Homo sapiens: one gene and its partners. The protein of the gene in region 3 interacts with the protein of the main gene of each other region in a pairwise test. Each region holds a gene or a part of one and is shown on either strand. Other genes may lie near its edges. The genes, in order: BDNF, ZDHHC17, FUT2 and DLST.

Region 1 (7,751 bases), on a different chromosome or scaffold from region 3:
GTTAAAACTCAGACTGTTGTACTCTACCCCCAGAGCTTCTTATTTAGTAAGTCTAGGATGGGAACTGAGAGTCTGCATTTGTAAAAAGTTCCCAGAGATGCAGATGCTGGTTGCAGAACACACTTTGAGATCATTCCATGAGTCTAACTGGAGGAGAGTATGGGTACTGTTATCTCCAAGTAAACACTGCTTGGTATCTGTTGGAGCAGGTCTCTGCTGGGTAAGGTTTCTATTTTATGTCTTTTTCCTCTTTCCTTCCTGATATGCACCAAATCCCAGTTGAGCAACTATTTTTTAAATGTTAGGGCTCAATGGAGAATGCAGCTTCACTAAATAAATTTAAATGTGTACTGCAGTACTTGACATGGATTTTTTCAAATTGTGAGCACTTAAGCCAGACAAAAATATTTCCCCTGGGTTCAGCCATTCTATGCAGACCAGCCCCTGGTTTCTAAGGAACCATTTGAAATAGAGTACAGTACCAAAGTGCAGAGCTGCAGAAGCATCTTTATGTCCTTTCTAAATGTAGAACATACACCTCAAGCTCAGGATTTCAACTAACACTTTTTGGTCATTTACAGGCTTGAGACAAGTCCTGTCATTAACTACAACATTATGTGTGAGGCTTTTTTCAGGACAGATAAGCTTATTTTTCTAAAGGAAAGGACTTTTGTTTTTCCAGATATAAAATAGCAGCTCACACTTAAATGCAAAGGTCTTGTTTATTGTTTGTGTGGTGAGGTTTAATTGGAAGGCCTGCTTTTTACAATTCCATGCTACTGACATTACCAAGCACACAGGATTGTTGTTAGAAAAGCAAATGCCAGGCTGGGGAGCTCCTAATCTGGTGGTCTGTGCCTTGTAAATAATTAGGGTGTGGGGGTGAGGTAAAGGCCTATGGAAATCCTACAGAGTGCCACAGAAATGGGTCTTCTCAATTATGATAATGTGTAAGATCACAGTGCTTTTTCTGTTAATATTTAAACATAGTCTTCAAGTAATTTACTGCAAATAATCACATATTAAAAAGCAAGGAGTTTGCTTTTTTTTCCCTACAAATAATTCAAATGGTGGCCAGAATTGAGAGAATGGATGATCATACTCACAAGATTGGGGATAGACATGCAGGCAGTGTGTTTATTAGAAGGAATGTCCATAAACATGGGCTGGTTTGGAGTGGCTTCACCTACTCTAGTTGCTAAGTTTAGCTATTAGGTGGGGAGTTCACCAACCACCAGTTAGTTCAATGTAACCAACAAAAGTCAGATTCCCAACCATTACCCCCGCTTGTCACCAAACCAAGCAGCCAACCAACCTTTAAAACCACAGTTTAAAAACCCACAGCTAAAAGGATGGCCTATGTTCCATAAAATACTAATTTTGCTGGTCAACATTCTGAGGTTGGATCAAATCTGTGAATGGCTTTTTGCAAGCTAAATGCTTCATCTTCCTAAATTTATGTACACGTATATTGTTTCTTATCCCAATTAACAGTCTTTATTTAACAATGGCTTATCAAAATATGCAGCCATTTCTACTTTAACTTGTAGACCAGGCTTGATGTTAGAACATGATGGAGACAAGTATGTTTTACAATAACCTTAAACCTTAACACTATTGGGAGTGCTGGCTGAACTGAGGCAATGCCTGAAGCCATTTGTTGCAGTTCAAAAAGTGTTTGACATTTTATCCAGATCTAGAAGTCACTTAAATGAATGAGGAACAATTTAACACTGACCCATTCTAAGACTTAGTTCAGATTCTCATTTCGAACTGTCTTATTATTCACTGAATTAGTACAGCTCATAAAAAGATTTCATAGACACAGCTAATGACCACAGAGGCTTATCAGTATGGTGAAAAACAACAGATCAAAGCAATGATCTGAGTTATTTCCTGGCATCTTAGTAATTAAACAAGTTTAACTGCTTACTCAATGAATGCAGTACACATTGGTTACTCCTATTAACTCCAAGTAGGATAATTTAGTAGATGTCTCTATTTTGTTTTTTTCTCCAACCTCATCTTCTAATGAAAACTTTCAGTCATGTTTACCAAACTCGTTTAACTTCAAGTAATTTGGATGTCATGTTTAATTTTTACTTTTTTTACTCAACCATTTAAAAAATATTTTAGTCCTCTGACTATGAAAATTGGTCAAGCCTGAAGTTTATCAAAGTTCTAAGTCCATGGCTGGGCTGTCATGACTGGCAGTCAAGGGCTTCTCTTAGAGTACTTTTCAAGTTCACTGGACAGATTAGGATAGAGTAATTCATCTCATTCGATCTGTTTTTCCATATACACAACACAAGTCAATGTTTGTTATGACTTTCCTGATCCTTATTTATAAGACAATACAAGAGGAAACCATGTGTGTATGTTTAGAAATAGAAATGATACATTGCACAGATATAGTTCACCACGTTATGGGATGGGTTGTCAGTGTTCAAATGGGGAGGCTGAAGAGTAAGAACAGATGCTTTTTTTCCTTAATGGCCCCTTCTCTGATTTAAAATCCTTCCATTTATTTCCCTAAGATTTAGTGATAACTTTAAACACTTTAACTAAATTACCCAGCGGCTTGGCAGCCATCACGGAGGCAAATCCTTTTAGAAATCCTAGCAATCTGTTAGATTGTGGGTACTATGATATAAAATCTGTGTGCTCCACGTACAAAAATTAAATCAGTGCTATGGATACAAATACATACTGCAAATGGCACCACTTCCAAACCGAGGATATGTGACCTGTCTCCAAATATTGAATTTCTTTTTTTACTTTTTTCCCCAGTACTTGACTTTCTAAATTTGGGCCAATTTATTCTCATTATCCCTAAGTAAACCTACTTTGATTTTTTTTAACAGTTATTTTATAGTCAAATAGAGCCAGCCAGCCAGCCGTGATTCGTGGATCCTGATGTTGCTAGGATACATGGTTTGGTATCTGATGAAAGTATATCACTTCAAAGGGGTAAAACTTTCAAGTGTCCGAGAAAATGACACTCCCATCTTCCACCATGGAAGACAGATCCAATCCTACAACTTCTCAGAAGCTCACAGACTGCAGGATTGGCCTCCCAGGCTTTCAAATAAGTATCCTCTCTGGAGGGCTGTTTAATTACTAAAACTAGTCAGATTAGTCTTAAAGCAAGGAACACACGTATTTATAATAAAACACGTTTTCATGTTTGTTTTACAGTAAAGAGAAAAAAACCCAGAACCCCCAGATTTTATGTACTTTGAAAATATATTTAAAAACATTAAAAATTCTATATTTAAAACATATATTATATGTTAATTAGTACACTTAAATAGAACTTGTATTTACAATAGGCTTCTGATGCGGTTAAGTTTTAATGCCAATTTTTTTCAATAACATAATTATATAAATATACTAAAATACAATAAATATTGTTTTTTGTTTTACATGGTGAATAATATCTTTACCATAGAGAGAACAAGGCCACAGACATTTACTTACATTTTCAATGGGAATCGCCATAAAAAAGCAACAGGCCTGCTGCCATGCATGAAACACTTCTGCCACAAAGAGACCACAGCAAGACTTTAAAAAACAAAACAAAACAGAACAAGAACGAACACAACAGAGAGAGATTTTAACAAAATAAATCTTAGGTCAACATAAACCATCAAGCATGTGACTGTGATGTATCTTATTGGGTAAAAGAGCCACTGACCACACAATTGCTGGATGTGTCTCCTATGAAACCACTTAACAGATCTGGCCCTTGCAATCCTTTAAGTTTGTGATGGGGGGTTGTTTGTTTTAAATTTGTCCCTCAAAAGGAAGCTGCATAAAGTTGACATACAGCAGATATTCCAAGCATTCCTTACATATTAAAAATAATTACAAAGATAATATTTTCAAACAACACAAAACAAATCTACACTACGTAAAGTCTTCCTTCTTTCAAAGAGGTATTCAGATGGTACTGTGAAAGACTAGCTCTAAATGAAAGACTGAACAAATTGAAATTCTTTGCTGATGGTATCTTCATTCCTGGGTTATGGTGAACATCCTCTTTTGCTTATCCCTCACCCTACTAAGATGCAGCAATTGCTTGGGGCTTTCTGATACTTAAGGATGCTGGTCCAAGTGGTGATCACTAACATTTTCAGGTGTGAAATGGGCTGAATGGGCTTAGAGCTCTAGTTTTCACTGGGGATCCATTTTTCCAAGAACCACTATTTCAGGCTCCCAACTTGACTTCTCCTAACCCAAAATGGCAGAGGTGAGGCAGGGACCCTCTCCATGAACAGACAGGATGGGCAGAAGGTTGCTGTGGCCTTCACTGGGGAGCAAAATTTTGTCAGCTCTGTCCTGGCCTCTTCCATTGAGCAAGGCACCTTCAAGTCTTGGTGTTCTGAATGTCCAGACACCTTCCCGAAGTCTTGTCTCTGGACAAGATTTCCTATGGGTCCCCTTGATCATTCGGCCTGAGTTTGGGGTTTCTTTTCCTGTTCCCTTTTCCCTTACCAAAAGTTCTCAAAAGATAAACCCTGGTTTCCTCAAGTCTAGTTTCAAAGCAATAAGTGTTCAGGTAGCAAACATCTTCTATCTCATTGCATCAATCTCATGATCACAAATGCCACATTTGGCTCCCAACCTGCTCCAGGCTAATCCAATTTTATGCAAAATTATCCAGAGGTGGGATGGTGGGCATAAGTCGGCTTGAGTGTGGTCCTCCAGTCGAGAACCTCTTGAGCACAGTTAGATAATGTAGGCACTTAAAGCACGAGGTCCAAGCAGCTTGACACATGTCATTCCAGAGCCACCTCTGAAGGGTCCTTCAGAGGCCTTCGTTTTGGAATGTCTCAAATACCATGCCCCACCTCCACCTAGACCTTGGGATGGCCACTCAGAAATTCCTCCCGCACTGCCGGTAAATGCAATGCCAACTCCACATAGCCTCCATTTGGCTGTTCAGTCTCATGTCACTGGCAATGTGGATTCCTGTTCTGATCTAGGTGTTTCTGGGTTGATACAGGGCTCTACCTTTTGCTTACAAGACATTGTTAAGCCTCACCATGAGTTTTTTTTAAGCTTAGCCATGATTTACCCAAATGTTCACTCCTCATAAAAAATAATCTTCATTTTGGGGTTATTTTTTGTTGTTTTCTGTTCTAAAAAAAAATCACTGTTCTCCATGCTTATACGAGTGTCATGATGTGACACAATGTGTTCACTTGTTCACAGCAGTGGTAAAATATTTCAGAACGCGCAACTGATTTTTCTTCCTTAAAACAAAACAAAGAGGAGACCAGAGGGGGAGGGGGGGAAAGAATGTGTTCTGAGCAAACATAGGTCCTTCCGTCAAAAGCAGCTTACTCTGACCAACGCCCAAAGAATGAGCGGGGCCTGGGAGGTGCATCACGGGATGTGGAGTGTGAGCATTTTTTTGTTCAGTTGCCTTAATTTTTATTCACTTTCTAGTCATCTGATCGATATTGCAAACATCTTCACAACATACAAATGTATCTTTTATCAGCCAGAATATATATTGTAGGAATTCTTTCCCCATCTCTACTCCCTGTGGGAACTAAAAAACAAAACAAACAAACGAAAAAAAAACACAAAACAAACAAAAATATACCCCCCATCCCCCATCCCCTAAGCCAGTAAAGCAATGACAACAGCACCTTGACATTGTTTTAATTCCAACGCTATCAGAAGTTAAAAGCAGTAAAACAGATATAGTACTAACAAGAACGAAGATACTTACTGTCTAAAATGTAAACGGAATGTTTTGGTTCAAATTTTTGTTGTGTGTGTGTGTGTTTTTTTTCTGTTTTCTGAAAGAGGACAGTTTATTATCAATTCACAATTAAAGCAGCATGCAATTTATTATTTTTTTTAACTTTTTATGTTTTCAGTTCTTGGCAACGGCAACAAACCACAACATTATCAAGGAATGTAATGCAGACTTTTTAAGTTGTGCGCAAATGACTGTTTCCCTTCTGGTCATGGACATGTCCAATAAATAGATTGTAGAACCACTGTACTGTATAAACTTCATTTATACATGCAGTTCATAAAATTATTTTTTTCTTAACTGAATAATTTACCCTGTTATGTATATATACAAATAGATAATTTTTGTCTCAATATAATCTAATCTATACAACATAAATCCACTATCTTCCCCTTTTAATGGTCAATGTACATACACAAGAAGTGTCTATCCTTATGAATCGCCAGCCAATTCTCTTTTTGCTATCCATGGTAAGGGCCCGCACGTACGACTGGGTAGTTCGGCACTGGGAGTTCCAATGCCTTTTGTCTATGCCCCTGCAGCCTTCTTTTGTGTAACCCATGGGATTGCACTTGGTCTCGTAGAAGTATTGCTTCAGTTGGCCTTTTGATACAGGGACCTTTTCAAGGACTGTGACCGTCCCGCCCGACATGTCCACTGCAGTCTTTTTGTCTGCCGCCGTTACCCACTCACTAATACTGTCACACACGCTCAGCTCCCCTCGGCGGGCAGGGTCAGAGTGGCGCCGGACCCTCATGGACATGTTTGCAGCATCTAGGTAATTTTTGTATTCCTCCAGCAGAAAGAGAAGAGGAGGCTCCAAAGGCACTTGACTACTGAGCATCACCCTGGACGTGTACAAGTCTGCGTCCTTATTGTTTTCTTCATTGGGCCGAACTTTCTGGTCCTCATCCAACAGCTCTTCTATCACGTGTTCGAAAGTGTCAGCCAATGATGTCAAGCCTCTTGAACCTGCCTTGGGCCCATTCACGCTCTCCAGAGTCCCATGGGTCCGCACACCTGGGTAGGCCAAGCCACCTTGTCCTCGGATGTTTGCTTCTTTCATGGGGGCAGCCTTCATGCAACCAAAGTATGAAATAACCATAGTAAGGAAAAGGATGGTCATCACTCTTCTCACCTGGTGGAACTGTAGGGAGAAAGCAGAAACAAGACAGAAAACTGGTTAGGGCTTTCTTTCACCGGGATGCCATGTGGCCCATCTGATTGTAATTCCAGGCCATTCTGCAGGGTCAAGGTTTTTTTATGTCTTGGTGATAAACTCCAGCTGCACCAGACACAAATCAGTGTCAGTAGTGTGCTGTATGTGGTTTAATATAAACCAGAGACATGCAGTGTTTCCCCCAAGATCTAGCATATAAACCTGAGATTAGATGGCTTCTAAGCAAGTGCAAAAATTGTGGCTTCAAGTTCTCCTTCTTCCCACTTTAGCAGCTTTGTAAGTTTAATTTTTAATGATCTCTGCTCATGCTGTCACGAGAAACACAAAATCATAAATGTTACTAAGCAACAACTGCAAGTGTAATTAATAGTAATTTTTTTCAAGTTAGCAACATGGTCCTTTGCAGGAATGTGTGACAGGAACAGCAGTGGCCTGAGGGGTCTGATGGGCCTTTCTAGCTATGTGATGTCTAGGCATGAATAGCACAATAAAACAGCAGTTGGGGAACTATAAGGAGCCTTTAAATTGACTTTTTTTTTCCTCTTCCCACAGAGATACTCTATTATAGCAAAGAAGAAAGATAATTTCATTGAGCCATCCTGTTTTACAGGTAAGGAAACCAAAGGCCATAGAAGACTTGCCTTATGTCATGAAGAAAGTTTATGTTAGAACTCAGGGCTCCCAATTCCACTGTTCTTTATTCTACACCTGGGTGGTCACAACTGAAAATGTTTTGCTTATTTCTAAACAGAAATCATTTTTTGACATGTTCATTTTAATGATGTGTCTATGCCTGGG
Region 2 (7,751 bases), on a different chromosome or scaffold from region 3:
AGCATTTTAGATTATTTTAAGAGCTGTTTTATTTAGTCTCTAAAAACAGGACAAATTTTGATAAGTTATTCCAGTCCACAATTGACTAAGACAATGGCAGATTCTTATGGTCTAATCCCCTTTTTTCTGGGCAGCATAGAGATTGCTACCCTGTATTCTTCTTGCAATGAAATAGCAGTAAATAAAAGATTTTATTTCTCTTTTTGAACTCAAAACATCAGTAAATTAAAGATGAAAATCATGTTTATTGATTCATAGTGGTGGCAAAAGAGTTGGTGAGCATTGTTCAGTTTTGAATTAAATATTATTTTTTTAATTCACAGACAATAGTTGAACTTGCAGAGACAGGAAGTCTGGACCTCAGTATATTCTGCAGTACCTGTTTGGTAGTATTTTCTTCTTTGTTCTTCCCTCCCTTCTCTTCCTCCTGACAGTGGCATAGCATAGCGGGTATGGGGTGTGGGGAAAAGGAATAATTATTTTCAATGAACACATTCCCTGCTTCTTGGTATAAGAGGAAAGATGGTTAAAGGATGTCTGCTTCCCAAGGCGCTTATTCCTCGATGGTAGGCCTTGACTGTACTTTTGATTCGGAGGTGCCGTTTATTTGTATTCATTCTCTTTCTCTTTTCTCGCTTAAAATGTTAATAAATTAAAAACTAAGTAATAAAGTATTTCAGATCAAAGATTTATAATGATTCCCTAATAGATTGTTTTCTTTACTACATTTTAAGAAAATTTATACTTGTATTTAAAAGCCACATGGGAAAATCCATTAGATAACTGTTAAGACAACATGGCCTCTAAACAAGTTCAATTTGAGTAGGTGGTTTTTTTTGTTTTGTTTTGTATCAGAATGTTTATGTAACTTTGAACACTGTTTTATCATAGATTTTTAAAGTGGTCATCCTCATCCAGGTCATAGGTAAAGATATATATGAAATTACTAGTATTTATTAATAGAGTCAGGTATAGCACTATTGAGATTGTTTATTATTATAGACATTAATTTTCTGTAGGATAATACTCTTATGTTTAAATTATTTTTCACTTAGTTTTTATAATTAGTATTTGTGAAAAATATATATACTGCCACAGTGCTTAAATTATGTTTTTCTACATGGAAATTGAAATATTCCAAAGTCATACATAAAACTAAATGCTCTTTTATACTTATACACTGCAAGTGAGCTCATGTCTTAGCATCTGATTAATAATAAAGTCATTGACTTCATTTAGGATTATGGAATGAAGTTTTGAAACAGTTCTAATTCTGAAAATTCTTTATTACACTTAATATTCTTTGACCAGTTATGATTTTGAATATTCAAAATATATACAGCTTCATGTTTGGTAGCAACTTTAGGATACCGACCAGATTCTTTTATATATTCCGGCATTCTGAAAACAGTTTTTGTTTCTGTGCTTTACAATGGGTAATTTACAAAATTGATATTCTTTTTCTTAATATTTAGAATGTTTTAATACACTGCTGTTCTGTGGAAATATACTGTTCCACAAAGTATGCAGTGCTGATGTACTTGCCATATGGCAAACAAATTATATAGTCATTCAATACAGATAGCAGTTTCATTGTCAAATACATATTTGATGGCAAGAATAAGACTAATTTTGTCATCATAGCATAAATGTTTTATTATATATTATTTATAAGCCACATACTTCTTGTTGTAAAGAAGATTTCCTATTATAAAATCTTGCAGATCAGCAGAGGTAGTTGTCATTATATGGGTATGCTTCACTTTGGTAAGTAGACAAGTCCCTAAGGCTTGTAGATCAGAGCTTTCTTAAAAACGAATTACTTTGTTGATTGCACCCCTGCACTCCAGCCTGGGCCACAGAGTGAAACCCTGTCTCAAAAAAAGAAAAAAGAAAGGATTACTTTGTAAGTGATCCAAGGAACCTTGAGACCAAGTCACACCTTAACCAGTTAGTCTGTTTTTCAGATTTTTGACAGTGTTGCAGCTGAGGGTTGGAAGTGGGGATAGAAGTTGTTTGAATATCCTGCTGCCTTCTCCTAAGTAGATTTAGTCTAACAACTGTGGTGAAGAATAACTTACCCTTTTCTTTATTCCACAGATAATTTTGGTAGATGTAAGAACTGTGTATTCACTGTGCCTTTTCCTTGGTACCTCAAAATAGTGTGTAACTTTATGCAAACTAATGGAGAAATGGCAGTGCTTTTGTTGAAACGCTGAAGTATATTTATAAATTTTTTTCTGGCAAGAGTTAATAACTGCAGCTCTTTTATCATATGTCTAGCATTAGGACTGCCAGCCCTTTGAAGATCACCAATGAGTTCTTGTATTCACTTGGCTGATTTAGAGTAATGTAGGTTTTAAAAACCATTTCAAAATGCTTGAAAAACAGACATCATAAGCATGGATTCTTTATTGCCTGTCAATAGCTGAATAATGAATTATATGGGGTTTTTTTTTTTGCAAGAAATAGTGACTTCTTAAGCATGTTCTGCATTCTTAAATATGGTCATTTCAGCAGGAGAAATGCTGTACCTTAATCTGAGATCTCAGAAGGCACTTTACTGAAGAGAAATAGATGTGTACATATGGGTTTTTGCTGGATTTGTTAATTTGGGGAAGACAAATATTTTATTGATGATTTTGAATTTTAAGAGCTTTTTAAATTCACTTTTAGCCTGACCTTCCTAGTAAGGAATAATTTTATTTTATTGAAAAACACCAATATCATGACCATTAATCATAATGGAACATCATTTAGAAGACTGGAGATTGATATGTTTTTATTACTCAGAAATTTGAGGGATGTGAATTAAACATAGCATCATTCATCAAATCAAATTGGTAATTCTTAGCTTTTGTAAATTGATGGTTCAGTTCCATTCTTAAGAGCATATTTTCTAGAGTAGCCTCATTCTTTTATTCTTTGTTTTTGCAGTTGAAATTTTATTAAACAATAGTGACTTTTGGTTTCATTCATTTGGAAACCTTGATATAATCTTGTTTAAAAAATATAGTTTTATTTTTTTATAATTATATTTTGAGAAAATAAATAGTCAGCTTTTCTCTCTTAGTATAATGCCTTTCATAATCCTTTAACATGCCTATTAACAGATACGAAAACCGGTGAGGTCCAAACATTGTGGTGTGTGCAACCGCTGTATAGCAAAATTTGATCATCATTGCCCATGGGTGGGTAACTGTGTAGGTAAGTTGTATTAGTAATTTCTTCTGTATCATTCATTTAAGTTACTTTAGGTAATGAATAAAGTATAATATTAAAGTAGGCAATAGAAAGTTTATTACTCCACGCTTCATTTTCTCAGTTATCTTCTGGTTGACAACACAGCAACTCAGTTGAGAGAGGGAGGGAAAAAAATTACAAAATTAGTGGCTGATACCTTTTCTCTGTCAGTTCTATCTGGTGCCTACTCTTGATAAGGAGGCAAAATTTTTTTTTTCTAGTTAAACTAGAGAGATGAAGGCGGTAATATTTGAAATGATATTATGTGCAGAGGTAGAGAGGAATGACAGATAAGAACAGTACACACATTAGTGTTCAAGAATGGTATAGTCTAAGGAGAGAAACTACATGGTTTGAGACATGCCCCGGAGATTTTATGAGGTGACAGGAAACATTACAAAGATTGTTTACCTCTGTTGAAGAGAAACCTTTGGATTGTAAAGTTTATAAAAGTAAAGATAAAATAGGGCTATTTTAAACCTCACAAAGAATAGGATTAGAGGTCAGAATTGTGATTTATTTAGTTCTTTGGGACTTGAACACCATTGTCATCATTATATCTTTGTGTGTAATTGCAAGCATTCTTATTTAAGATTTTTATTAAAACATTTTTCCTGAAAACCACTTTATAAAATAATGAATGTATGTGTGATTATCATCAAAACTGTAGCACACCTTTCATGGCATACCCCTCAAAGGTGCATTACCCGTTGTTTTTTTCTTAGCTGAAAAACCTTGCTTCTGTGTCGTTCTTCAGGTGCAGGCAACCATAGATATTTTATGGGCTACCTATTCTTCTTGCTTTTTATGATCTGCTGGATGATTTATGGTTGTATATCTTGTGAGTACAATTAGTTTTCGGTCTTTTTAAAACAAATTTCTGCATACTTAGATTATACTTACCACACTAACAAATTACTATAATGACAAAGGTCGTTTAACTAAAATTATGGTTTGGACACCTTATGAAGCACAAAAGGGAAAAAAGATACAGCTCTATCAATTATGTCCAATATACAGTGTAAGCAAACAGTTAGCAGTTAACCACCTTTTAATACTTGTGTCCTCTGAAAAACATATTGGTTTAATAGGCTTTGAGAAGCTTCTGGGTGAAATACATCAACATTTTCCACATCATGTGCTTGCTTTACTATAGTAGCTTATAGATTAAGTGATTGTCTTAGTTCTGTTTCTTACCAAGCAGTTGGGAAAATATACTTAAAATTAAATTTGCAGAGAATTTGAAATATTTTGAAAAGTAAGGTATAATTATTGCCTATTAGAGAATATTAGTAAATATCAGAAGTTACCTTTTTAAGAATAAGTTGTTATTCCATCATGTGGGTTTTATACCTTAAAGGAAATGATAGATTTTTGTTGCATTGAGAATGCAGTCTGGAAAGAGTTTAAGTGGATACGTCACTTACGATGCCTCAGGGCTTGGTGGTGCTTGGCATAAAGATGTATTAGATCCTCGTTTAAATACAAGTCTTGGAAGGATGATTTTCTAGTCTTCCTGCCCCACAGATAGTAAAAATAATCAGTGTTATTGCCCTAATGAACCAAAGGAGGTTACCACCTCAGTTAAAGATTAATAGGAAGATTTGGTCAAAGAACTTGACCTAATTTCTGGCCCAGCACACCTGAGGAGAATACTTTCTTGCCAACAACAGCAGTATTTTATAGCAACTCTCCTACAGCAGGAGATTTTGTATTAGGAAAGGCCTACCTTGGCTGGGCATGGTGGCTCATTGCCTATAATCCCAAAACTTTGGGAGGCAGAGGCAGGTGGGCCAGTTGAGGCCAGGAGTTTGAGACCAGCCTGGGCAACGTAGGAAGAGAGACCCCATCTCTACAAAAAATACAAAAATTAGCCCGGTGTGGTAGCGCATGCCTGTAGTCCCAGCTACTCAGGTGGCTGAGGTGGGAGGATTGCTTGGGTCCAGGAGGTCGAGGTTGCAGTGAGCCTTGATTGAGCCACTGCACTCCAGCCTGGGTGACAGAGCGAGACCTTGTCTGGAAAAAAAAGCTCATGTCACCATCCTATTATGTTATATGCCCTCTTTCAAAAAAATCTCTTTCATATATCCTCTCATCTTTGTGTAAAGAAAATGTTTTTCTAAGTATTATGTGATGCAATACCAATCAAATAAAATTGTTAATTCTGAAGATACAGTGATTTTTTTTTAAGATTGGCTGCTCCTTTTCCATTTCTGTGTTTTTTCACTGAGATATAATAGGGTTATTTAAGAGTATAAAGACATTTGCTATTGAATGTCATCAGTTAAATCTAGACTGTTTGACTATGTTTTCTAAATGGTGCCAGCACAAATGCCTATATGAGGTGCTTGGATGATTATTGAGTAAATACGAGTACTTCTGTTCTGGCTTTAGACTGGGGACTCCACTGTGAGACCACTTACACCAAGGATGGATTTTGGACATACATTACTCAGATTGCCACGTGTTCACCTTGGATGTTTTGGATGTTCCTGAACAGTGTTTTCCACTTCATGTGGGTGGCTGTATTACTCATGTGTCAGATGTACCAGGTATGTGCAAAGGCATTCTTTTTAGTGCACTAAGTGAAAACTCTTCCATCCTTGCATAAAAGATAATAATATATTCTCTTCCTAACCACTCCTGCTCTTCAAATATTCATTTTATTTTTCAATTTAGTTTTCCTTTCTACCTCACTCTTTTGCCCCTTCCTCTTCTCATATTGTGAACTTTTGAATTTTAGTACTTATCTCAACAGAAATTTTAATCTGTTATTCCTGACTTAAATACATCCAGTTGAGTATGTGTGAGCTCAGATTGATGATGACATTAATTTTGTGTTTTTAATGGTATTTTTATTCACAAATACTAATATTTATTCAAAAGCCTTTTTTTAATTTTTAAAAGCTCATTCTCAGAGAGGCTGATAGGGAGGTTGTCTGTGCAGGAATAGCGCCTGTCCATGCACAGTGTCAAGTAACCTGTCTTTAAATATTTTCCACATTTAACTGGCTACTTTTCACAGTCAAATGATACCACGTAAACTAGTTCTGATGATCTCCTGATGGAAAACCAAAAACAGACTTCATTGTTTTTATCTTTATCCTAGTTTTCTTCAAATTAATTTTTTTATATTAAGTATTTAGAAAGAATAATGGTTTGTGCAGCCTGGCATGGTGGCTCACACCTGTAATCCCAGCACTTGGAAGCCGAGGTGGGCGGATCACTTGAGCCCAGGAGTTTGAGATCAGCCTGGGCAACATGGTTAAACCCTATCTCTAAAAAAAAAAAAAAAAAAAAAAACCCAACAAAAAAAAGAAAATTAGCCGGGCATGGTGCATGCGCCTGTAATCCCAGCTGCTGGTGGGGTGGGGGTTTTGGGGTGGGGGGAGGTGGCGGGGGTGGAATCACTTGAGCCCACCCAAGAGGGAGCTGAGAATTCGCCATTGCATTTTAGCCTGGGTGACAGGGCAAGGTCCTGTCTCAAAAAAAAAAAAAAAAAACAAGAATAATGGTTTGCTTTTTCTTTCCTCTTAGATATCATGTTTAGGTATTACTACAAATGAAAGAATGAATGCCAGGAGATACAAGCACTTTAAAGTCACAACAACGTCTATTGAAAGCCCATTCAAGTATGTACATATTTATAAATTTAATATTTTACCTGGTCATAAAAATTTTCTTACTAACCAGACTCTTTTACTTAGTGATATGTAAAATAGCTTTTAAACCTTTTTAAGATTTCTGTAGAAATAGCATCAGTTCACCATAATAACAACAAAACAGAATTCATCACATTAACTGTATATAATAAAGTTGTGATATCTCCTTATATTTTTTTCTTTTTAATTTTAAATTTGTATTCAGTCTGGTGCTTAGAAATAGTAGGGTCCTAAGTATATGAAATATTTAAAACTTTGAGTTTTACTGAAGTTATTACCAACTCTTCAGCTTTTGTGGTGCTGTCAATTATGGCATACTTCTGGAAAGCAAGCAGACCTTTAAATAAAAACAGAGTTAGTTGGGTAGTTTTGAGAATTCTCCCATAGGTACAAAAATTATATAAGGCACAAAACTGACTGCTTTTCTTTTCTTTTTTTTAGACAGAGTCTTGCTCTGTCACCCAGGCTGGAGTGCAGTGGCATGATCTCGGCTCACTGCTACCTCCACCTCCTGGGTTTAAGCACTTCTCTGCCTCAGCCTCCTGAGTAGCTGGGATTACAGGCATGCACCACGCCCAGCTAGTTTTTGTATTTTTAGTAGAGATGGGGTTTCACCATCTTGGCCAGGCTGGTCCTGAACTCCTGACCTCATGATCCACCCGCCTCGGCCTCCCAAAGTGCTAGGATTACTTACCGACGTGAACCACTGGTGCGCACCTGGCCAAAACTGACTGCTTTTCTAAAGGTGTTACTGGAGTACTAAAATTTCATGAACTTATCCTTGACATTTCTTTTTTAAGTTGTTATCCTTAGGTTCACTGCCAGATTCATGCTATTTATAATTAT
Region 3 (7,751 bases):
GGAGAAAAGGTCTCAAAGAATGGGCCAGCATTAGTGCTTGAGTAAGGGGGACAGGTCTGCGGCAATCCCTGTCCACTCCGGCAGGAAGGCTGCCTCTGGCTTAAAGATTTTGAGGAAAGGGGAGTCGGGGAGGGTGTAATTGGCCAGGTAGATGGTGTCTCCGCCCGTGAGGTATGCGGCCCAGATCCCGAACGTCCCAATGGTCATGATGGTGTGGTTACACTGTGTGAGTAGAGCAAAATCTTTGGCAGGTGAGCCCTCAATGCCATCGCCAGCAAACACCACATCACCGTGGGAGGTGTCAATGTTCTCCCGACACCAGGCCATGCCATTACTGGTGACCACGAAGATGAGGGAGCTGTAGCGAGCTCGGAACCAGTCCAGGGCCTGCTGTAGGTATCGCCGGTCGGCCACCACCCCCTTCCACACTTTTGGCATGACATGGACATAGTCCCCTCGGCGAACATGGACCCCTACAAAGGTGCCCGGCCGGCTCCCGTTCACCTGCAGGCCCCGCAGGAACTTCTGGGCCTCCTCCCGCACGTGGTCGTGCAGGGTGAACTCCTGGAGGATCTCCTGGCGGAGGTGGTGGTAGAAGGTCCAGGAGCAGGGGTAGCCGGTGAAGCGGACGTACTCCCCCGGGATGTGGCGGTATTCCTCCTCCATCCAGTCGTTCAGGTGGTAGTTCTGCCAGGGGATCCTGCTGGCCGTGGCGCTGTGCAGCACCGGCAGGGTGATTCTGAAGATGGGGGCCAGGGTGCTGTGCATCTGGGCCGGGATGAAGGCGGGCCGCCCGTTCATCTTGGCCAGGGCGTACAGTGTGGCGTACTCGCCCATCTGGTTCCCCAGGCGGCCTATTGCATTGATCGTCCACATCCCCCTGAGCTGGCTGGGTCCCAGTGCCTTTGATGTTGAGGCTAGCACTGGTATCTGCACCGGTAACTCCCACATGGCTTGAATCTTCGCTAGCCGCTGCTGAACGTGAAATATAGTGGAAACCGTAAAGACAAAGAGGATGAAGTGGGCCATGGGAAAGGAGAAAGGCATCTGAACGACCAGCATGGCTGTCAGGGGAGGAAAACGGGACACGTTAGCTGGGAGATGGAGGCCCGGGGCGCTGGTGAACGTGGCCATGCGGTGGTGTGCAGGCATAGTGTGGGTGTGTGTGTGCTTCTACTTCAGGTGTGTAAATACTTGGCACATACTTGCCTATGTGCACAGGCATGTATCTCAAGTGTGTTTATACAGATGTGTCTACATTGTGTTCATAGGTGGGTGTGTGTACACAGGTAGATGCGTACACATTGTGTGTAATGTGGATATGGGGATCCATACATTGTATACATATACAGGTGTGTGCAAAATTGTGTGTGTACATATACAGCTGTGTACAAATGGACATGTGTACATGGTAGTGTATGGGTAGAGATATATCGTGTACATGTAAGGGTATATGTGTAAGTATGTATACACATACATATGTCATCTAGGTGATTGTGAACACAGCATGTGTGTATATGTGAATGTGTATACATATATATGTATATATATACACTTTGTGTATCTATACATTGTATGCATTTTTTGTTTATTAATTTTTTATTTATTTTTTGAGACAGGATCTTGCTCTGCCACCTGGGCTGGAGTGCAGTGGTGAGAACGTGGCTCACTGTAGCCTTGACCTCCTAGGCTCAAGCAATCCTCCTGCCTTAGCCTCCCGAGTAGTTGGGACTACAGGTGCACATCACCACGCCCAGCTAACTAAAAACAAATTCTCTTTTGTAGAGATAAGGTCTCAGTATGTTGGTCAGGCTGGTCTCAAACTCCTAGGCCCAAGTGATCTTCCCACCTTGGCCTCCCAAAGTGCTCAGATTATAGGCGTGAGCCACTGCACCTGGCCCACATGGTATGTTTAAATGTGGGTGTTTATCGACTGAGTGTACATATGTGGGTGTCCACATATGGTGAGTACAAGTATATGTAGCTATTATTTACTGGTGATCCAGTTTGTAGAGATGTTCTTTTTTTTTGAAATGGAATCTCTGTCACCCAGGCTGGAGTGCAATGGCACGATCTCTGCTCACTGCAACCTCTGCCTCCCAGGTTCAAGCTATACTCCTGTCTCAGCCTCCTGAGTAGCTGGGATTACAGGCGCCCGCCACCACGCCTGGCTAACTTTTGTATTTTTAGTAGAGACGGGGTTTCACCATGTTGGTCAGGCTAGTCTCGAACTCCTGACCTCGTGATCTTTCTGCCTCAGCCTCGCAAAGTGCTGGGATTACAGATGTGAGCCACCGCGCCCGGCCCAAGATGTTCATCTTTTGTTTTTATTTTCCTACTTGCCAGAGTCCAGTGCCAGAGATATTCATCTTTGCATGTCCTGCCTGTATCCACTTTGAAGGGAAATTGTCCACCTGGCCTGCCTGCCCTCCTGGCCGCAGCCAGTTGAACTTGAGAGGAACACCCAGCTCCACCGTGGACTTCCCATTCATCGGCCATGGCCTATGACAAGTGTAGGCTGGCTCTAAAAGATGAGTTGTGGCCGGGCGCGGTGGCTCACGCCTGTAATCCCAGCACTTTGGGAGGCCGAGGTGGGCAGATTAGCTGAGGTCAGGAGCTGGAGACCAACCTGGCCAACATGACAAGGCCCTGTCTCTACTAAAAATACAAAAATTAGCCAGGTGTGGTGGCGGACGCCCGTAATCCCAGCTACTCGGGAGGCTGAGGCAGGAGAATTGCTTGAACTCGGGAGGCTGAGGCAGGAGAATTGCTTGAACCCGGGAGGCGGAGGCTGCAGTGAGCCAAGATCATGCCACTGCACTCCAGCCTGGGGGACACAGCAAGACTCCATTTCAAAAAAAGAAAAGAAAAGAAAAGAAAATAGTGAGCTCTCTGGGTGGACACAATGCCAAGGACACCTGGTTTGATGAGTAGACTGTGGGTCTGTTTAAACCCCGCTTACCTTCTTGACCAGGGGACTTCGTGCAGTGAACAACCTACACAACCCCTCAGGGCATCCCTGTTGTCTACTCTAAAGCCATTTCCCCTTTTCTCCTTGGTAACACCACCCTAATTTTCTGCAAGCTGCTTGTCCTTCAGAGGTGGCTGATCAACTTCTCAGCTGCAGAATCTGAGGCTAAACTAATCCCAGAAGTCTCATTTCTTTTGCCTCCTATCGGGCCACATGGTTATGTGACAATTCCTACCCATCGGAGTTGTGGGGGGAGTTGCTGGAAGGCTTAGGAAGGTTTCATTCATTCTTCAAAAGGGACCAAGACAAGAACGAGCCTCTTTCTGCTGTTTTTGAAAGAAATTATCTGCATGTGATGGCTGGATGTGTAGCAGCCCTTTTGGGACCGTGAGATGATACAGCTAAGAAATGGTAGCTGGCTGGGCGCGGTGGCTCACGCCTGTAATCCCAGCACTTTGGGAGGCCAAGGCGGGCGGATCATGAGGTCAGGAGATCGAGACCATCCTGGCTAACACGGTGAAACCCCGTCTCTACTAAAAATATATATAAAAAAATTAGCCGGGTGTGGTGGTGGGCGCCTATAGTCCCAGCTACTCAGGAGGTTGAGGCAGGAGAATGGCATGAACCTGGGAGGCGCAACTTGCGGTGAGCCGAGATCGCGCCACTGCACTCCAGCCTGGGAGACAGAGCGAGACTCCGTCTCAAAAAAAAAAATAAAATAAAATAAATGGTAGCACAGCATGTGAAGATGGATGGAGCTCAGGTGACTGATGACTTTGTGGAGCCGCTAAATTAACTGACCCTGGTCCGCTTGCAGTCTTGTGTGATATGTATGATTATGGTCTTTGAACCAGTTCACTTCTTTTCCTTTTCTTTTTTTTTTTTTTTTTTTTTTGAGATGGAGTCTTGCTCTGTCACCCAGGCTGGAGTGCAGTGGCGCCATCTTGGCTTACTGCAACCTCCGCCTCCTGGGTTCAAGCAATTCTCTTGCCTCAGCCTCCTGAGTAGCTGGGATTACAGGTGTGCACCACCACACCTGGCTAATTTTTGTATTTTTAGTCGGACGGGGTTTTACCATGTTGACCAGGCTGGTCTCAAACTCCTGACCTCAAGTGATCCACCCACCTCAGCCTCCCAAAGTGCTGGGATTACAGGCGTGAGCCACCATGCCTGGCCTCACAAATTCTAGATAAAGCTCCTTTCTCATCACTACAAAAGTATATCCTTTCACTAAGTCCAACACAGAATGCTGGACTCGATGACTCAAAGACACATCACCACCAGTGGCTAGGTGCACAAGCTCTGGCCAATTTCAGACTCACAGTCACGAGCTGTGTGATTTTGGGCAAGTGACATCACCTCTCTGAGGATTAAAACAGTGTCTGGCACATATACACAGGCGGTAAATGTTTGCTATTGTCACCCACAAGGCAAAGAATGCTGTTCGTTTTAGGCTCTGGGTGAAGAACCCAGGTTTCCCAGTTTTGATACTGGGAGTATTGATAGTGGTCAAATGTAGCGTTTAAACCATAGATCATAGAACGGGAGGTAGCCGGGCACAGTGGCTCACGCCTGTAATGCCAGAACTTCCAGAAGCCAAAGTGGGTGGATCACCTGAGGTCAGCAGTTCGAGACCAGTCTGGCCAACATAGTGAAACCCCTTCTCTACTAAAAATACAAAAATTAGCTGGGCATGGTGGCGCGCACCTGTAATCCCAGCTACTGGGGAGGTTGAGGCAGGAGAATCACTTGATCATGGAAGGCAGAGATTGCAGTCAGTAAGCTAAGATCGCGCCACTGCACTCCAGCCTGGGCGACAGAGTAAAACTCCATCTAAAAACAAAACAAAACAAAAAACCCACCCAGGTTTCCCTGTTTCTTTAGGCCTTCATTTCTGAAGGCTCCCATGTCAACACTTGCCTTAAATACATTTGTTATGCTTGTGTCTGTTAACCTTTTACTGTAGGTGCCCCAGCTGCAAACTTTGTGATAGGTGAGGAAAAGATGCTACTTTTTCTCACCTATGGAAGGAAGGAAGGAAGGAAGGGAGGGAGGGAGGGAGGGAAGGGACAGAGATGATAAAAGGGACAGAGGAAGAGACAAATAGAGAAAAAGACCAGAAGACACAGAGAGAGGCAGGACTAGAGAGACAGGGAGAATGAAACAGACAGGGACCAGGCATGATGGCTCACACATGTAATGCTAGCACTTTGGGAGGCTGAGCTGGGAGGATTGCTTGAGTTCAGGAGTTCGAGATCAGCCTGGACCACATAGTGAGAACTTGTCTCTATTTTAGAGAAAATTAGGCCAGGCGCAGTGGCTCACGCCTGTAATTCCAGCACTTTGGGAGGCCAAGCGGGGGCGGATCACCTGAGGTCAGGAGTTTGAAAGCAGCCTGACCAACATGGAGAAACCCCGTCGCTACTAAAAATACAAAAATTAGCCAGGCGTGGTGGCACATGCCTGTAATCACAGCTACTCAGGAGGCTGAGGCAGGAGAACCACTTGAACCTGGGAGATGGAGGTTGTGGTGAGCTGCGATTGTGCCATTACACTACAGCTGCACTCCAGCCTGGGCGACAGAGTCAGGCTCTATCTTAAAAAAAAAGAAAAAAGAAAAGCAGAATGTTCTACACGGATGTCCCTGCCTCCTTGGTAGCTCCCTACCTCCTTACCCAGGAAGGAGGAAGGTGGCTGCTGAGTGGCCCAGAGCAGGAAGCTGGGCACTGACCTTGACTGGAGCCTGGAAGGAGAGAAGGAAGAGGTGGGGAGGCCTCACAGAGCAAGCTGCGCTATGAGATTGTGAATTTTTGAGGTTTGGCGAGATGCCCTGCACGGCATGATCAGGAACCTTTTATGTGCTGTGTGACTTTAACCCAGGGCTTTTACCTCTCTGTGTTTCATTGTCCTTGTCTGTCCATCAACAGGGGGTTGTGGGGAGGGATAAAAACAACACCTCCCCAGAGGTTTCAGTGAGCTGAGATCACACCATTGCACTCCAGCCTGCACAACACAGTGAGACTCCGTCTCAAAAAAAAAAAAAAAAAAAAAAAAGAGCCAGTGCAGTGGCTCATGCCTGTAATCCCAGCACTTTGGTAGGCTGAGGCGGGTGGATCACCTGAGGTCAGGAGTTCGAGACCAGCCTGACTAATATGGTGAAACCCCATTTCTACTAAATACAAAAAATTAGCCAGGCATGGTGGCTCATGACTGTAATCTCAGCTACTTGGGAGGCTGAGGAAGGAGAATCGCTTGAACCTGGGAGGCGGAGGTTGCAGTGAGCCGAGATTGTACCATTGCATGCCAGCCTGGGCAACAAGAGCAAAAATCCATCTCAAAAAGATACAACAACAACAACAAACCACACCTCCCTTAGGGCTGCGTGGGCACAAAGGGAAATGCTGTATTACATGGGCTGTCCCTGGTATTCAGAGCAGAATTTGTGCCCCAAACTCACACTTATGTCAGGCTTGAACCAAGCACCACTCCCATTCTGCCTGAAGGCATTATTTTTTTTGAATTGCTTTTTTTGTAGGGATGGTGGGGAGGGGGTCTTGCTATGTGGCCCACACTGATCTCAAACTCCTGGCCTCAGGAGGTCCTCTGTTCTCCTTCCTCAGCCTCCCAAAGTGCTGGGATTACAGGCATGAGACACCACACCTGGTCTATCTTACTGAGATTTTTTTTTTTTTTTTTTTTTTTGAGACGGAGTTTTGCTCTTGTTCCCCAGGCTGGAGTGCAATGGCACAATCTCGGCTCACCACAACCTCCGCCTCCCGGGTTCAAACGATTCTCCTGCCTCAGCCTCCCGAGTAGCTGGGATTACAGGCATGCACCACCACGCCTGGCTAATTTTGTATTTTTAGTAGAGACGGGGTTTCTCCATGTTGGCCAGACTGGTCTCGAACTCCTGACCTCAAGTGATCCGCCTGTCTCGGCCTCCCAAAGTGCTGGGATTACAGGCGTCAGCCACCACGTCCAGCCCCGTCCACGTCTTTCTATTGCGGCCCGGCTTCCTCCTCTCCCCTCTGTCCCCTACACCCAGCGCCGGCCCTGCCCCTTCCCAGCTCGCAGCCCCTTCAGGGCTCCCTATGCCTCTTAAGACACAATCCCAGTCTCTCGCCGGCCCCGCACACCCCTCCGGCTTTGTCACCAGCTGTTCCCGTGAAATAACCCAGCTCTCCGCTCACCCGGGGCCCCGTCCTGTCCCCCAGCTCTGAAAGCCTTTCTCTACCCCAACCGCCCCGTGCCCCGGGCAGCTCAGCACATCCGGCTCAGTCGCACCCCACTGCCTCGAGCTCGCTGTCTTCCTGCACCTCCCCGGGATTCCCGGATTCCCGGCATTATCACTTCCACCCTGGGGAGGAGAAGGGAGCTTCAGACAATAACGTAGGGCCATCACTTGGAAACCCCACCTTTATTCTCCGACCCAGAACAGAAGCGGTGATTCAGAGCGGGATTAGGGAGTGCAGGAGGGACGGAGCCGCCCTCCCTGGGCGACGGCAGGGCTCGGAGGTGAGACCAGCAGTTTGGGTTCCATGAAGCCTCTGAGGAGCCCCAGGGTGGAGGCAGGAAAGTCGGGTCACCACCAGCTGTGCGCGAGCCATCTGCACCATTACTGCCAGGGTGGTTCATAGAAACTGCTGAGGGGAAGGAGACAAGGAAGGACCTGGTGGCCCGGGGTGGAGAAGGGGAGGGAGCTGGTGGTTGGAGCTCTAGAAACAGATCCACCTGGAAGGAAGTGGGGAGGGAGCTAAGGAGGGCGGCTGGCTGGGGAGGG
Region 4 (7,751 bases), on a different chromosome or scaffold from region 3:
GTTTCTGAGCCTTCATTCTTGGTCAAGCTTTAGGCACATCTGAGTGAGTAGTTTTGGCCTGTGTTTGCATGTTTTTGCTTGGAGGAGAAAGGGCCACCACAGGAAAGGGAAGCCTGGAGCTCGTGTACTTAGATACTGTAGTCCTTGGCCATCTACTCGTGGCAAGCCGTGTTCTTTCTGACTACACGGGGAATGCTTGACCCAGAGAGATCAGATTGTCAATGCTTGTTCCACTCTTACTTTCAGGAGAAAATGAACAGGATGCGGCAGCGCATTGCTCAGCGTCTGAAGGAGGCCCAGAATACATGTGCAATGCTGACAACTTTTAATGAGATTGACATGAGGTAGTGTCTCTAGTCCCTCTTATCCCCTAGGCCCCTTTTTCTTAGAGAACACGAACTTGCCCCACTCCTTATCTAGTGCTGATTCTAAAACTAACTTGTCAGGGAAGAGGTATTTGTTTATTGTTTTTTGTTTGTTTGTTTTTGTTTTTGTTTTTTGAGATGGAGTCTCGCTGTCTCCCAGGCTGGAGTGCAGTGGCATGATCTCGGCTCACTGCAAGCTCCGCCTCCCGGGTTCACGCCATTCTCCTGCCTCAGCCTCCAGAGTAGCTGGGAATACAGGCGCCCCCCACCACGCCTGGCTAATTTTTTGTATTTTTTTAGTGGAGACGGGGTTTCACCGTGTTAGCCAGGATGGTCTCGATCTCCTGACCTCGTGATCTGCCCTTCTCGGCCTCCCAAAGTGCTGGGATTACAGGCGTGAGCCACCGCGCCTGGCCTGTTTATTGTTAACTTTCACAGAGTGAGCCGCTGGCTTCTTCTCTAATTGGCTTTCCTAATACTATGCCTGCCTCCTCCATGACCTTAACCTTAGCCTTGGCTAGGTGTAGTGGCTCACACCTGTAATCCTGGCACTTTGGGAGGCCGAGGCAGGCGGATTGCTTGAGTCCAGGAGTTCAAGACCAGCTGGGTAACAAGGCGAAACCCCACCTCTACAAAAAATACAAAAATTAGCCAGGTGTGGTGGTGCACATCTGTAGCCCCAGCTACTTGGGGGGCTGAGATGGGAGGATTGTTTGACCCCGTCACTTACATATTTTCCTAAGTGATTCAGAATCGAGTGGATGAAAAGGCAAAGATAGGCTGGGCTTGTCTTTCATTTTACCCAGCTCTGACAGTGAAATGGAAAACAAGTTGTGTTTTTAAATAACCTTAGAATGTTAACCAAAGGTACTAATTCACTAGGTATGCCCATTTCTGTAGTGAGCTAATTGTTGACTTACCTGTTTTCTTCAAGATTTCAATGTGTTCAAGTATCAGCACTGTCAGGAAGAGAAATTTGACAAACGTGTTTTGAGTGCGTACTGTATACAGAGTACTGTACTGTGGAATTCAGTGGGGATAGACGCTGGGCACCATGGCTCGTGCCTATAATCCCAGAGCTTTGGGAGGGTGAGGAAGGAGGATCGCTTGAGCTTAGGAGTTGGAAACCAGCCTGGGCAACATAGCAAGACTGTCTCTACATAAAATTTAAAAATTAGCCAAGTGAGGGCTGGGTGCGGTGGCTTGCGCTTGTAATCGCAACACTTTGGGAGGCTGAGGTGGGTGGATCACATGAGGCCAGGAGTTCGAGACCAGCCTGGCCAACGTGGTGAAACTCTGCCTCTACTAAAAATACAAAAATTACCCAGGCATGGTGGCGTATGCCTGTAATCCCAGCTACTCGGAAGGCTGAGGCACAAGAATTGCTTGAACCCAGGAGGAGGTTGCAGTGGCTGATATCGCGCCACTGCACTCCAGCCTGGGCAACAGAGCGAGATTGTGTCTCAAAAAAAAAATTATGTATGGTGGCATGGACCTATAGTCTCAGCTACTTGGGAGGCTCAAGTGATCTTCCTGCCTCAGCCTCCCAAATGGCTGGGACCACTACAGGCATGTGCCACCAGGCTTGGCCAATTTTTTTAGTTTTTGTAGAGACAAGGTCTCGCTGTGTTGCCTAGGCTGGTCTCCTGAACGTCTAGGGTCAAGCCATCCTCCTGCTTTGGTCTCCCACTGGGATTACAGGCATGAGCCACCATTCCTGGCCAAAAAAGAATTTTTAAACAGGTCTTCAAGAGTGACTAGCATTTTGTCAGCCTTGTGGAGAAAGGTCATTCCAGATGATGTTAACAGTGTAGACCATGAGATGGGAAAGTAGAAGACACATTTGAGAAATTGTCAAAAATCATTTCTGTTGTGAGGATTTTGTATAGCAAAGAATGGTAAAGAAGGTTGGATCCTTATTTCAGAATGTTTTGAATGCCAGGGTAGGAGTTTATATTTAATTCAGGAAGCAAGTCAAGTCTCAGGTCATCTCTTTCTTTCTTTTTGTCCTGAGGGTTTAGTCTGCGAATCTACTTTTCATTAGAGAAATTTGCTTTTCTTTGGAAAGGGTTTGAAAAATAGGGAGAAGGGAGTGTTTTCTTGATAGTGCGCTGTGGCATTGTTCAGAGTAGGGCTCTGTGACCTGTTTTACTAGATGTCATCCATTCTGTTGGGAAACTTTCCGAAGAGACTGGATGACATTCAAGCCAAAGATTTCTCTCTTGTTCATAGGATGTAGGGGAAGGACCTTGACTAATGAATCACAAAGGCTGCAGCTTATGTTTCAGTGCATTAGGGCCAAATTGTACACAAATTGAATTGGACTTTGAAATTCTACCCAGTTTCTTAAGACAAAACATGTAAATATTTGTGGCCCTGAAAGATGCAGTTGGCCCAACAGCTTTGATTGGAAAGGAAGCGTAATAGCTGGATCTCCTTTCAGCAGCTAATCAAGGTGTCACTTAACAATGGCCTGCGGTCTTGCTGCAGCCTAATTTGGTTTAGATCGAGTGCCCTTTGGGTCTTGTGCTGATCAGCTAACCCATAAGGGACCTTTCTGAGACCTTCTCCCTTCCTCTATTGTCCCAGCCTTTGCCTCCAAGGGCAGAGCTCTGAAATAGAAGCTACTTAATGACCAGACAATAACATTTGGGCAGGTTTGAGAGCAGAGATGTTTATCACATCTCTTTCCCTCTTCTGCAGCTCTTGTGTCTTGGGAACCAGTAATGTCTTTAGGGTGGTAATCCTAGCACTAAATAAGGTTAGAATCAGGAAAACAAGCATTTTAAACCCAATCAGTCCCCCTTGGAAAAACTTCCTTTTTCAAAAACAAAAGATCTGAAGGGGGCTGTTAAAATTGTACCACATCTTACCTTTCATGCTAATGTCGAATTAGGCCATTAGAGGGAGAAAGGGAGAACTGAGCATTTGGCCCTGAGATAAAGTTAAATTCAATTTTCATCGTAGAACTGCATTACTGCATTCCGATAAATACTGAGGTTTATGCAGCAAAGTGATGGGAAAGCCATTTCTCACTAACTCTGCAATGTGTCATTGAAAAAAAACCAGTCCCAAAAGAATAAAGGCTGCTCATGTTGTAAAGGCTTTTCAGAAGGCTTGCTGCTTAATCTGAAGGGAACCAGCCTAAACCACAAGTGGCCACTTTTCTAAATACCAAGGAAATCACAGCCATTAAACTAATCTTAGGGCAAGAACTATGTCTTAATTAGCTTTGTATCTTGGTACCTGGCCCTGACCCTCACATGTAGTAAGGTGTTAGTACCTGTTTGGAAGAATAAGTGGATGGAACTGCCAACCCTGGAAAGATGAAGAACGGATATGACTTTCCGTGGGCCTGAAAGAACACTGGGTTATACCCTTCCCTGCAGAGTCATGACTGCTTTTTCCCGCATGGAGCCTCATGTACCCATGAGCTGTTTATTTTAGTCTCCACTAATCAAGAGATAGGAGGAATATCACACGGGAGTTATACTCAGATTTGGTGGGGTTTTTTTTTTTTTTTTGTATTCTAACAAGAAATAAAAAGAATATTGCTTATTTTGTAGATTTTGTTTATACTTTAAAAAATTTTTTTTCAGGATGGATAGCTCAGTTATTCAGGGCAAGGATGTTGGTGTGCTGTGTGATCTCTTGTTCATATGATGTGTCACTGAAATCTGTGACTTCTAGACCATGAAGGAGCCCTGTAAAGAGATCAACCCACCTTAAAGACAGATTGGGCCTGATTCCTGTAGATTTCTTTGTAAAAGAACAGAGTTACTGTGTTAACCTCAGGTAGACTATTTCAAAACTTGAACTAAGGTAATGGTCCAGAGTGAGGGAAAAGCTCTCACCTAATTGTGTATATGGATTGAGAAACCTGTGTGAAAGTCAAAATGCAGGCTTTGTGGTCAGTTTGTTTTGTAATATTTTCACAGTAACATCCAGGAGATGAGGGCTCGGCACAAAGAGGCTTTTTTGAAGAAACATAACCTCAAACTAGGCTTCATGTCGGCATTTGTGAAGGCCTCAGCCTTTGCCTTGCAGGAACAGCCTGTTGTAAATGCAGGTGAGTTGCTTGTGGCTGGAATTGGAGAGGTCCTGGGAGGTAGGTGTATGAGCACAGACCTGCTCCCACATGCAGAGGATCAACAGACCAAGGCTTTTTATTTGCTACCTATAGAAATATCAGTATCTTCCCCAGGGATTTCTTGGTTCACCTTCCTGAAGCAGCATCATGATTACTTTCTACCCGCCAGCTGGGCAGAACAGTTTCTCTTCCCAGTGTACAGCTCGGCAGCTGCTCAGGCAGCAGGCAGTTCTGGGATAGCCCAGCTCTCCAGGCTGTCTCCTGTCAAGGTGGAAGCACGTGTTCTGGCTTCCTCCCCTCCCCCAGCTCCACAGGCCCTGTTACCTTGGGGCCTGACTTCCACAGTTGGTGTAGGCTCCTGGCTGACCTTTGATCTTAGGTCGATGGGCCTCACTGGGAGCTTCGGCTTGGCCTCTCATGGACCTGGTGCTTATTTTCTTTCCTTTTTACTTACCTACGTCATTGTAGTGTTGACCTAACAAGCACTTTGTTTTCCTGTTGACACACTTCTCTGTTCCTTGGGAGATTGGAGAGGGGTCAGTGCTACTTTTGCCATCCTCAGCAGTGTCAGGGGCCCTAAAGGTCTAGAAGTAGAAGCCCTAGTCCCTCCTGTTGAGTGGTGCTCTAGGGAGGTAGAAGGCCATCTTTGTTTTGCCCAAATGTATACCTCTTCTTTTTCCCATTCTTCTCATGCCTCCCTGACTGGCTCTCATCTTTTTCAGTGGCCCCCTTCTGCTTGCCCACACATGTAGGCGGCTCTCAAAAGTTCTCGTGGCCTCTTTTTCACATTACATGCTTCCTCTGGATGTCTTATCTAACAATACAACATGGACTTTCTGCGGAAATGATTCCCAAGCCTTTATTTTCCCATTAGTTGCTAGGTGTACATTTTCAGATGCTGGTTTGCCATCTCTTGAGGTAGCATATTTCAAAGCCAGATCACCCCGCTTACTCTTGGATCTCCCCTCTTCCTCTTGTTGAGAGTTGGAAGCAGAGAATGGGTAGTATCTCTATATCCCTTTTCCTTTGCTAATTTGCCCTTTTTTGGAACATTTGTTAACCCTAGTCATTCTCTGCTAAAGGAGGGCTTGACTAGAGCTACTTAACGAGAGTTTAGTGCATACCTATCCTATGGAAGCCAGTGTGTTGAGCCCTTCTTAGGGCTGCCAAAGAAATGGATGCTCCTATGCCCAGGCTCAGTCAGGGACTTGGGAGATACTATACTTGGGATGGGAGTAAGTGGAATGCCAGCTGCCATGCATAATGCAGTGGTGTTCATGGTGGTTGGTCAGCCCACACTGTATCAAGCTCTGCAGATTTTTACTCTGTTAATGCACATATTACCTCATTAGTCTTGGCCTTCCTGGGGAGTTGTATGTAACATGTATTTTCTCTCTCATAGTGATTGACGACACAACCAAAGAGGTGGTGTATAGGGATTATATTGACATCAGTGTTGCAGTGGCCACCCCACGGGTATGTTGGGGCAGGAGGTGGGGAATGTTGGTCTTAGACCCTCACCTTATCTGTGTGAAGGAGATCACACAAGAGAAATCATTTCTTTAATTCTGTATTTTTAGAAGGGAGTTAGTAAAAGTAACCTTTTTTTTCTTTTAAACCATGCCGCATTCTTTTAACACTTTCTGTTAATCACACTGAGTAATGAAGGTATTCTAGGGAGGGCATACCATGGGTTGAATCAAGGGAGTTGTTAACTATAAAAGGTACTATTAATTTGCAACTGAAAACAGCTTTTCACCCCCTTCAGGGTCTGGTGGTTCCAGTCATCAGGAATGTGGAAGCTATGAATTTTGCAGATATTGAACGGACCATCACTGAACTGGGAGAGAAGGTAAAGTAGAAAGATGTATACAAGCTGCTAAGCAGGCGAGGGAAGAGAGCCTTCAGAAGGCTGGGCTCACTAGCAAGCAGTGCTCATGGAAAGTCAAGTGCATAGCCCCTGAGAAAAGCAGTTGCCCATGAGAGCTAAGTATTTTATATATCTGGTGGAGTTTACCATGCTCTGGTAACTGAAATCTCATCAGATGAGACCTGCTAGAAAAGATCATCTTTGAAGTCTTCAACTGTATGAAATTGTGCCTTTTCTCTGGTGGAGCACTGGTCATAGACACCTTAGCCGAACAACTGTCACACGGAAGCTAGCGCTTGTGCCATCGATCTCGATACAAGCTTTCTGGACTTCCTTTGCTTTTTTGTTTTTAGAGGCAGGGTCTCGCTGTGTTGCCCAGGCTGGAGTAGAGTGGTAGAGTCATAGCTTACTGCAGCCTTGCACTCCTGGGCTCAAGCGATTCTCCTGCCTCAGCCTCCCAAGTAGCTGGGACTACAGGTGTGCACCACCATGCCTGGCTAATTCTTAAGTTTTTTATACAGATGGGGGTCTCACTATGTTGCCCAGGTTGGCCTTGAACTCCTGGCCTCAAGCAGTCCTCCTGCCTCGGCCTCCCAAAGCGCTGGGATTATGGACTGACTTTAGGTGAAGGAAACTGGGTTGGCTTGATATTTCAATTATGAAATCTGTTTTTAGGCCCGAAAGAATGAACTTGCCATTGAAGATATGGATGGCGGTACCTTCACCATTAGCAATGGAGGCGTTTTTGGCTCGCTCTTTGGAACACCCATTATCAACCCCCCTCAGTCTGCCATCCTGGGGATGCATGGCATCTTTGACAGGCCAGTGGCTATAGGAGGCAAGGTAGGAACCGTCACTTCTAAGGTCCTAGTGGCTAGGTCTCGATGAAAGGGAAATCCAACTAAATGCTAATTGTAAAACATTAACTATAATTTCAGGCCTAAGTTCCATTTCTTAGTTTCTAATAGCTAAGGCACTGATTATCAAATTGTGGTCTGGATCAGCATCATCTGGGACCTTATTAGAAATGCATATTCTTAGACCCCATCCCAGACTTAAAGAAGAAGTGCAGATGATCCTGATGCATATTCAAGTTTGAGAACCACTGAGCTGAGGAGGCTTGTTTGCTTCTATGGAGTGGGGGATATAGTTGGAAACGTGGTCCCTTGCCCCTGGGAAACAGATGACAATTATGCATGTCAGTCTGTGAGCTGCCAAGTTGTATGATAAAGCTTGTAAATTTCCCGGGAGTTCAGAGAATTAAGTATTAAAAGGGGCTTGAGCTGGCCCTTAGAAGATACGTTGGTATCAAAAAAGCTTTCTGGGAACTCCTGTGTTTAGAATCCTTTTGGGTTACTGACTCCTGTGTGAAACCACAGTCTGTAGATCTTCCTGGAAAATGCCCATACACCCAGCTACACATACA

Evidence for each region.
Region 1: the proteins of FUT2 (region 3) and BDNF interact in binary tests that used the Homo sapiens proteins (3 or more experiments, as listed by UniProt).
Region 2: the proteins of FUT2 (region 3) and ZDHHC17 interact in a two-hybrid assay, tested with the Homo sapiens proteins (one large-scale study listed by BioGRID and IntAct).
Region 4: the proteins of FUT2 (region 3) and DLST interact in binary tests that used the Homo sapiens proteins (3 or more experiments, as listed by UniProt).

Annotation. Positions count from the first base shown.
Region 1 is NC_000011.10:27,651,666-27,659,416, forward strand, and holds the end of BDNF (neurotrophic factor BDNF precursor form isoform a preproprotein), read right to left. Parts: exon of another isoform or gene 6,921-7,751; coding exon of another isoform or gene 6,900-6,920; coding exon 6,156-6,899; 3' UTR 3,228-6,155; downstream 1-3,227. UniProt on the Homo sapiens protein: Important signaling molecule that activates signaling cascades downstream of NTRK2. During development, promotes the survival and differentiation of selected neuronal populations of the peripheral and central nervous systems.
Region 2 is NC_000012.12:76,842,596-76,850,346, forward strand, and holds part of ZDHHC17 (palmitoyltransferase ZDHHC17), read left to right. Parts: intron 1-323; coding exon 324-386; intron 387-3,113; coding exon 3,114-3,207; intron 3,208-4,000; coding exon 4,001-4,084; intron 4,085-5,637; coding exon 5,638-5,795; intron 5,796-6,780; coding exon 6,781-6,875; intron 6,876-7,751. UniProt on the Homo sapiens protein: Palmitoyltransferase that catalyzes the addition of palmitate onto various protein substrates and is involved in a variety of cellular processes.
Region 3 is NC_000019.10:48,696,268-48,704,018, reverse strand, and holds part of FUT2 (galactoside alpha-(1,2)-fucosyltransferase 2), read right to left. Parts: intron 1,570-7,751; exon of another isoform or gene 1,065-1,569; 5' UTR 1,063-1,064; coding exon 31-1,062; 3' UTR 1-30.
Region 4 is NC_000014.9:74,894,066-74,901,816, forward strand, and holds part of DLST (dihydrolipoyllysine-residue succinyltransferase component of 2-oxoglutarate dehydrogenase complex, mitochondrial isoform 1 precursor), read left to right. Parts: intron 1-246; coding exon 247-344; intron 345-4,303; coding exon 4,304-4,434; intron 4,435-5,857; coding exon 5,858-5,931; intron 5,932-6,223; coding exon 6,224-6,307; intron 6,308-7,000; coding exon 7,001-7,168; intron 7,169-7,751. UniProt on the Homo sapiens protein: Dihydrolipoamide succinyltransferase (E2) component of the 2-oxoglutarate dehydrogenase complex. The 2-oxoglutarate dehydrogenase complex catalyzes the overall conversion of 2-oxoglutarate to succinyl-CoA and CO(2).